Linked DNA regions of Homo sapiens. The protein of the gene in region 2 purifies or fractionates together with the protein of the main gene of each other region. This does not show direct contact. Each region holds a gene or a part of one and is shown on either strand. Other genes may lie near its edges. The genes, in order: ITGB7 and GZMK.

Region 1 (3,821 bases), on a different chromosome or scaffold from region 2:
ACCACCACCATGCCTGGATAATTTTTGTATTTTTAGTAGATATGGGGTTTCACCATGTTGGTATGGCTGGTTTTGAACTCCTGATCTCAAGTGATCCACCCGCCTCGGCCTCCCAAAGTGCTGGGATTACAGTCGTGAGCCACTGTGCCCAGACCCATTTCATTGCTTTTTATGGCCAAATAACGTTCTGCTGTATGGATATACCACCTTTTCTTTATCCATTCATCAGTTGATGGACATCTGGGTTCTTTCTACCTTTTAGCTATTGTGAGTAGTGCTGCTGTGAACATTTCTGTACCAGTTTTTGTTTGAACACCTGTTTTCAATTCTTCTGAGTATATACCTAAGAGTGAAATTGCCAGGTTATAGGATAATCCTATGCTCAATTTATTGAGGAACCAAATTGTTTTCCACAGAGATTGTACCACTTTACATTCCTTACACGGTAATGTATAAAGATCCCAATTTCTCCATGTTCTCATCAACACTCATTGTTTTTCATTTTTTGATAGTCATTCTAGTAGAAGTGAAGTGGTATCTCATTGTGGTTTTTTTCTTCTTCTTTTCTTTTCTTTCTTTCTTTTTTTTTTTTTTTTTTTTTTTTGAGACAGGGTCTCGCTCTGTCGCCTAGGCTGGAGTGCAGTGGCCCGATCTTGGCTCACTGAAGCCTCTGCCTCCCGGGTTCAAGCGATTCTTGTGCCTCAGTTTCCCGAGTAGCTGGAGCTACAGGCATGTACCACCATGCCCAGTTAAGTTTTGTATTTTTAGCAAAGATGGGGTTTCACCATGTTGCCCAGGCCGGTCTTGAACTCCTGACCTCAAGTGATCCACCCACCTCAGCCTCCCAAAGTGCTAGGATTACAGGTGTGAGCCACCATACCCAGATCATTGTGGGTTTCATTTGCATTTTCCTAATGATTAATAGTGTTGAGCATCTTTTCATTTGCTGGGTGGCTATTTGTCTATCTTCTTTGAAGAAATGTCTTTTTAAGTCTTTTGCTCATTTTGAAAGTTGGGTTGTCTTTTTGTTGTTGAATTGTAAGAGTTCGTTATATATTAAGGATACTCATCTGATATATAATCTGCAAATATTTTCTCCCATTCTGTGGGTTGTCTTCGCTCTCTTGACATTGTCTTTGATGCACAAAACTTTAAATTTTTGATGAAGTCCAATGTATCTGTTTTTCCTTTTGTTGTTTGTGCTTTTGGTATTACAGCTAAGAATCCATTACCAAGTCCAAGATTATGAAGATTTACCTATATACTTTCTTCTAAGAATTTATAGTTTTAGTAGTTATATTTAGGGCTTTGATCTCTTTTCAGTTAACCTTTGTATATGGTGTGAGGTGGGGAGGGGGTCCAACTTCATTCTTTTGCATGTTGAAAGCACCTTTTATTTTTTGAGAAAAAGTGGTGGCGTGTGCCACTACACCCGGCTAATTTTTGTATTTTTAGTAGAGACGGGGTTTCACTATGTTAGCCAGGCTGGTCTTGAACTCCTGACCTTGTGATCTGCCTGTCTCGGCCTCCCAAAGTGTTGGGATTACAGGCATGAGCCACGGTACCTGGCCTTTTTTTAAAGATGGAGTTTCAGCTGGGCATGTAATCCCAGCTCATGCCTGTAATCCCAGCACTTTGGGAGCCTGAGGCAGGTGGATCACTTGAGGTCAGGAGTTTGAGACCAGCCCGGCCAATGTGGTCAAACCCTCTCTCTACTAAAAATACAAAAACTAGTCGGGTGTGGTGGCGCATGCCTGTAGTCCCAGATACTTGGGCGCCTGAGGCCAGAGAATTGCTTGAATCTGGGAGGCAGAGGTTGCAGTGAGCTGAGATGGCGCGACTGCACTCCAGCCTGAGCAAGACTCCATCTCAAAAAAACAAAACAAAACAAAAAAGACAGAGTTTCACTCTGTTGTCCAGGCTGCAGGGCAGTGGCACAATTGCAGCTCACTGCAACCTCTGCCTCCTGGGATCATGTGATTCTCCTGCCTCAGCCTCCTGAGTAGCTGGGATTACAGGCGCCCACCACCACACCCAGCTAGTTTTTGTATTTTTAGTAGAGACGGGGTTTCACCATGTTGTCCAGGCTGGTCTCGAACTCCTGACCTCAAGTGATCCACCTGCCTCGGCCTCCCAAAGTGCTGGGATTACAGGCATGAGCCACTGTGCCCAGCCCCAGCCCCATTTTTTGAAGACAGTTTTTCTCATTGAATGGTTTGGCACCCTTGTTGGAAATCAATTGGCCACAGAAGCATAGTTTATTTCTGGACTCTTTCAATTCTATTCCACTGATGTATAATATATGTGTATCCTTATGCCAGTACCACACTGTCTTCTTTTTTTCTTTTTAAGAGACAGGGTTTCACTCTGTTGCCCAGGGCAAAGTACAGTGACACGATCATAGCTCACTGCAGCCTCAAACTACTGGGTTCAAGCTGTCTTCTCACCAGCACTGGGATTACACGCATGAGCCACTGCGACCAGCCAATGCTGTCTTGATCACTGTAGCTTTGCAGTATCTTTTTTACAAGATTATTTTGGCTATTTGGGGTTCCGAGCAATTCCATATAAATTTTAGGATCAGCTTTTCCATTTCTGCAAAAAAAAAAGGGCCAATGGGATTTAACTTTTTGACTTATGAAGCGTGGTAAATGAATTACCTGCTCATTTTAAAAAATTAATATGTTTTTTTAAAATCAGGAATTTGCTTGGCTTTCCTGAAGGTCACTCAAGGTATTACCCTGTCTCCAGGCTCTTTCTTCAATCTAGATTATCTTTGTGCAAAGTACAGAAAGTAGAAAATTTTTTTGCCAACACTGGCCTTTCTCCCCTTATCCCAGACCTGCAGAGAGTTCTTGTGGTCTAATCTTCATTCCTCTTGCTACCATGTCAACCAAGCAGAACTATTCTTCCTTGACTCTTTCACACACTCCCTCATCTGCTCCAGCTTTCTTTTCTTTAATTCCCAGTCACTGACCCTCTTCTCTTATTTAGAATCCAAGATTGTAAAAGCCGCCAAGTATGTCAGACTATTTATTCAACTTCTCCACTTTGCAGATGTGGAAACTAAAGCCCAGAGAGAAAGTCTGACTTGCCCCACAGCCAGTGAGTGACTGCAGCAGCACCAGAATCTGGTCTGTTTCCTGTTTGGCTCTTCTACCACTACGGCTTGGGATCTCGGTAAATAGAACTGGGTGCAGACTTTAGTGCTTTCAGGCTCAGTCCCCAAATCCTTTAGTAGGCCATTTTGCCCACCTTGGCCACATGAAGTCTGCACACAGGAAGGACAGATCTTCTCTGAGGCCCCTATTTTTTTTTTTTTTAAGACAGATTCTTGCTTTGTCACCCAGGCTGGTGTGCAGTGGTGTGATCTCGGCTCACTACAACCTCCGCCTCCCTGGTTCAAGCAATTCTCTTGCCTCAGCTTCCTGAGTAACTGGGATTACAGGTGCACGCCACCATGCCTGACTAATTTTTGTATTTTTAGTAGAGATGGGGTTTCGCCATGTTGACTAGGCTGGTTTCGAATTCCTGAGCTCAGGTGATCCACCCACCTTGGCTTCCTAAAGTGCTGAGATAACAGGCATGAGCCACCACGTCCGGAGGCCCCTACCTTTGCGTGATACCTGCTCCTTCCCATTATTTTGAAGAAACTGCTGAATCCACAGGGGAAGTGAAACTATGAGGGGAGATAAAGTGTTGGGGCAGAGTTTTGAGAGTGATAACCACAAGCTAAGTTTAGAGGACTGAGAGTTTGAGAGTCCTCCCTGAGGACCCACATGTCCCCCTTTATATCCTATTACAGGGCATGGTGGCTTTGC
Region 2 (3,821 bases):
GTTTCTTTCAAGACAGTATATGGAATAACATGGGCCCTTATAAAATATATCATAATCACCTCAAACATGGGGAGGGTGCTAGCAAAATGCATTTTGTAGGTGATTTAACTAATTGAGCCATCCTGTATAAAAATGTTGACAAAATAGAAGGAAGACAATGCTACTACCTACCTTAACCAGCATGATATCATTTGATTGAGGATCTGATGTAACTCTTGAGAATGGTATAAATTTTTTGATCTCCAGTGTTTGTTTGGAGGCCTCATTCTTTGAGAGAGAGTGTGCGCCTAAAACCACAGTGGGAGACTGGCCTTTGGTAAACCTAAAAAAAGCAAAGACAATGAAAGCAGCAGAATGATTTCCAAATCCCCCAGTGGGGAGTGGTGATGGTCGAGAGGGTTGTATACACAGAGAAACAAGGGCTATCTCCAAGGTAACCTGCCTAAGATTAGGTGGAGTGACAAAGGTCTTAGTGGAGCCCAGCATGAATTGATATTAAGGGCCAAATGACTTGCCCTTAATCCCACCCTAAACCAATTCCCTGGCATTGCAAAAGAATATCAGAACTTGTATCCAACTGGGGGAAGAAAAAGGAGTGAAATCCTAATTGACTTAGATCAAGTTTAAAACAAAATTATGTTCATTTATGTAAAAATAAAGCAAATTATATTCCTTGAGTTTGTAGTTTGAGATTTACACCAACTACCATTAAAATTTGTTTATTGTGGTAAAGTATACATAATGGTATAAGAATGGTAAAATTTACCATTTTAACCATTCTTTAATGTACAGTTTGGTGGTATGAAGGACATGTATATTGTTGTTCATCCACCACTATCATCTCCAGAACCCCAGAACTTTTTTTATCTTCCCAACATTAAGTGTTTTAATAATTAAGGTAGCCAGGTGTGGTGGCTCATGCCTGTAATCCCAGCCACTTGGGAGACTGAGGTGGGAGGATCATTTGAGGCCAGGAGTTTGAGAGAAACCTGGGCAATACAGTGAGACCCCCATCTCTAAAAAAACATTAAGGGGCACACTGGTGCATGCTGGGCATGGTGGTGCATGCCTACAGTCCCAGCTGTTTGAGAGGCTGAAGCAGGAGGGATTGCTTGAGTCCTGGAGCTGGAGGCTGAAGTGTCACAGCCTGGGTGACAGAACAAGGCCCCATCTCTTAAAAACAAACAAACAAACAAACAAACAAACAAACAAAAACCACAAAGATCCCCACCCTACACTTGCTCACCCACATGCCTAGACTTCATCTCAGGTCAATGTGGGGAAGTAAGGCCTATTACATGACAGTCAGATATGTCCATATGTCCTGTCCCCTCAATTAGAACAAAGATTTGGACAAGAAAGGAAAACTTTCCTCAAGGTAAGAAAACAGTGCTAATTTAAAATGAAGATACTTTAAGGTTAGTAGCCATTCCATCGGGGAGATTTAGAGGATACGAACTGGTGAGTGAGGTGAAGAAATAGGTTTGTTTTTTGGCTTTCTTTTTTAACGTTTTTTTTTTTGAGAAGGAGTCTTGCTCTGTTTCCCAGGCTGGAGTTCAGTGGCGCCATCTCGGCTCACAGCAACCTCCGCCTCCCAGGATCAAGCGATTCTCCTGCCTCAGCCTCCCGAGAGGCTGGGACTACAGGCTTGTGCCGCCACACCTGGCTAATTTTTGTATTTTTAGTAAAGACGGAATTTCATCATGTTGGCCAGGGTGGTCTCAATCTCCTGACCTCAGGTGATCTACTGGCCTCAGCCTCCCAAAGTGCTGGGATTACAGGCGTGAGTCTCTGTGCCTGGCAAGGTTTGCTTTTTAAATCTCTGGTCATACACAGTTCTAGTACCAGTGTTTCAACAGTGCCACAATTGATCTGATTTACTCTTTGTTGGATAAAATTACATTTACAGCAGTGATAAAGTAGAAATAATTTTTTGGAGATTTTGGCAGAACCGTAGAGCCATTTGTATACTACAGATACATTCCATTACAGTGTCTATCTTTATGAAGTCCACCTCAGATCTTTTAATTGTATTTGTTTGTTTACATGTAACTATTTCTTTGCTACTTGGAAAAGCTACCAAAGTAGATTGCAGTAAAAACACACATACTCATGCATATAGATTAATAAAGATTAATAAAAGTTACAAAGAGCACAGAAACATACAGAAAAAGGAAGACATGATTGTTTCAGATTTGAAAATGGCAAATGCCTGTGGTAGAGTGGGTTTGCTTATGGCAGAGCTGTGACTGCCTGGAATGACCACTTTTTGGTTTCTACCAAAAGAGTTTATTTTTATTTATTTTGGGAATTCCAGCTCTATTTGTTGAAAAGTTTGCCTATTGCAAAATCAGGACCGGGTGGAAATTTCTCATAGGATGTGGACTGGATTTCCTAGGATTGATTTGAATTCAAATTCAACATACCCACTAAACCCAAAACTTTGTAGGAGAAGGATGACATAAAAATCTTCAGGATGAATGCTCTAACAGAAAGGTGGGCACGTGCCTAAATGACTCACACAAAGAAGGCTATGAGGTACAAATGAGAGGTATGGAGGGTGGATTCTCACTAAGGGAGGGATGCTGAAAAAATGTCTGGGTTTCTTTCGTCTTTTACTAATTTACTCGGCTAGTTATTGCCTTTGAAATGTTTTGGTTATTTTTGTCTCCACTGGGACATGTTAAGACCAAAAACAACCCAAGCAGACCATTATTCCTTCTGACCTTTCAATTTCTAGATATCCTTCAACTGTAATCTGTGCTACTCAGGTCAAATTTTCTGCCCACAGGGTACCTGGAATTACTTGAGTTCTGGGATGCCACCTCCTTAGCTAAACTGAAGTCTGAATTCACACAAAGAGGAAGTAATAATGCCAGTGTTTTTCAGTTGCACAGCACAGGATTTCCCCAAATGCAGTCTTCAGACTTGCTTCAGAATCACCTGGAGGTGTTGGTTTAAAATGTGGTTTCCGGAGTCCCACCCTGAGCTTTCCTGGAAGAGATTCATATATGGAGCAGAACTACAGTGCGGCTTATAGTGGGTCTGCTGAAGACATCTGTAAACATTGTCTCCATTGAGCCTAACAATAACCTTTTTCAAGGCTGGTAAAGCTGACGGGCTGTGTATTCCTTACCAGTAAAAGATTGTTCTCTGACTGGTCCAAGGTGACACACCTCATAAATAGGGGAATCAGGACCCAAATTTGGCTTTTGGTGACTCCCAGTCCAGTGCTCTTTCCTCAATCCCTCTTTGAACCCCGTGCCAACCCCCTTCAAGCCTCTTCTTTTCTCTGCCAGCGCGCCTGGACACTCAACAGTGGTTCTGCTTAGACCCGCCCCTTGAGGTCTGGCAGCAAAGGCAGGGTCCCTATGTCTTGGAGATTTCTCTTGCCTAAGAGAGAGGGAGAAGAACTTGGCTGTCAGAGAGGGAGGTCTTCCCAGTCTTATCTCGTCAACATCAGATTAGTTCCTTGGTTATTACCATGGAAGGCACAGATAATTGTATAACAATACTCGATAACATCTATTAAGTTCTTTGTGTTCTGTGCTAAGCATTTTACAAAGCTTCCCTCATTTAAACCGCACAACAGCGTGGTGAGATAGGTATTATGACAATCCCCATTTTATAGATGAAGAAATTGAGGTTCAGGTAAACGAATAAACTTGAGGACCTTTGCCTCCAGGAGGCAAATTCGGGCAGGATTAAAGCTCAGTTGGCTTGAATCTAGAGCCTGAACATTGAACCATTTTGTTCCAGGAGCCTTGAGCATTTGAGATGGAGTGAGGCCATGTGGAAGGGGCTGTGGAAGGTTCCATCTA

What was found.
Region 1: the proteins of GZMK (region 2) and ITGB7 purify together in Homo sapiens (affinity purification with mass spectrometry; one large-scale study listed by BioGRID and IntAct). This does not show direct contact.

Annotation. Positions count from the first base shown.
Region 1 is NC_000012.12:53,200,431-53,204,251, reverse strand, and holds part of ITGB7 (integrin beta-7 isoform a precursor), read left to right. Parts: intron 1-3,057; 5' UTR 3,058-3,180; intron 3,181-3,798; exon of another isoform or gene 3,799-3,805; 5' UTR 3,806-3,808; coding exon 3,809-3,821. UniProt on the Homo sapiens protein: Integrin ITGA4/ITGB7 (alpha-4/beta-7) (Peyer patches-specific homing receptor LPAM-1) is an adhesion molecule that mediates lymphocyte migration and homing to gut-associated lymphoid tissue (GALT).
Region 2 is NC_000005.10:55,026,935-55,030,755, reverse strand, and holds part of GZMK (granzyme K precursor), read right to left. Parts: intron 323-3,821; coding exon 172-322; intron 1-171.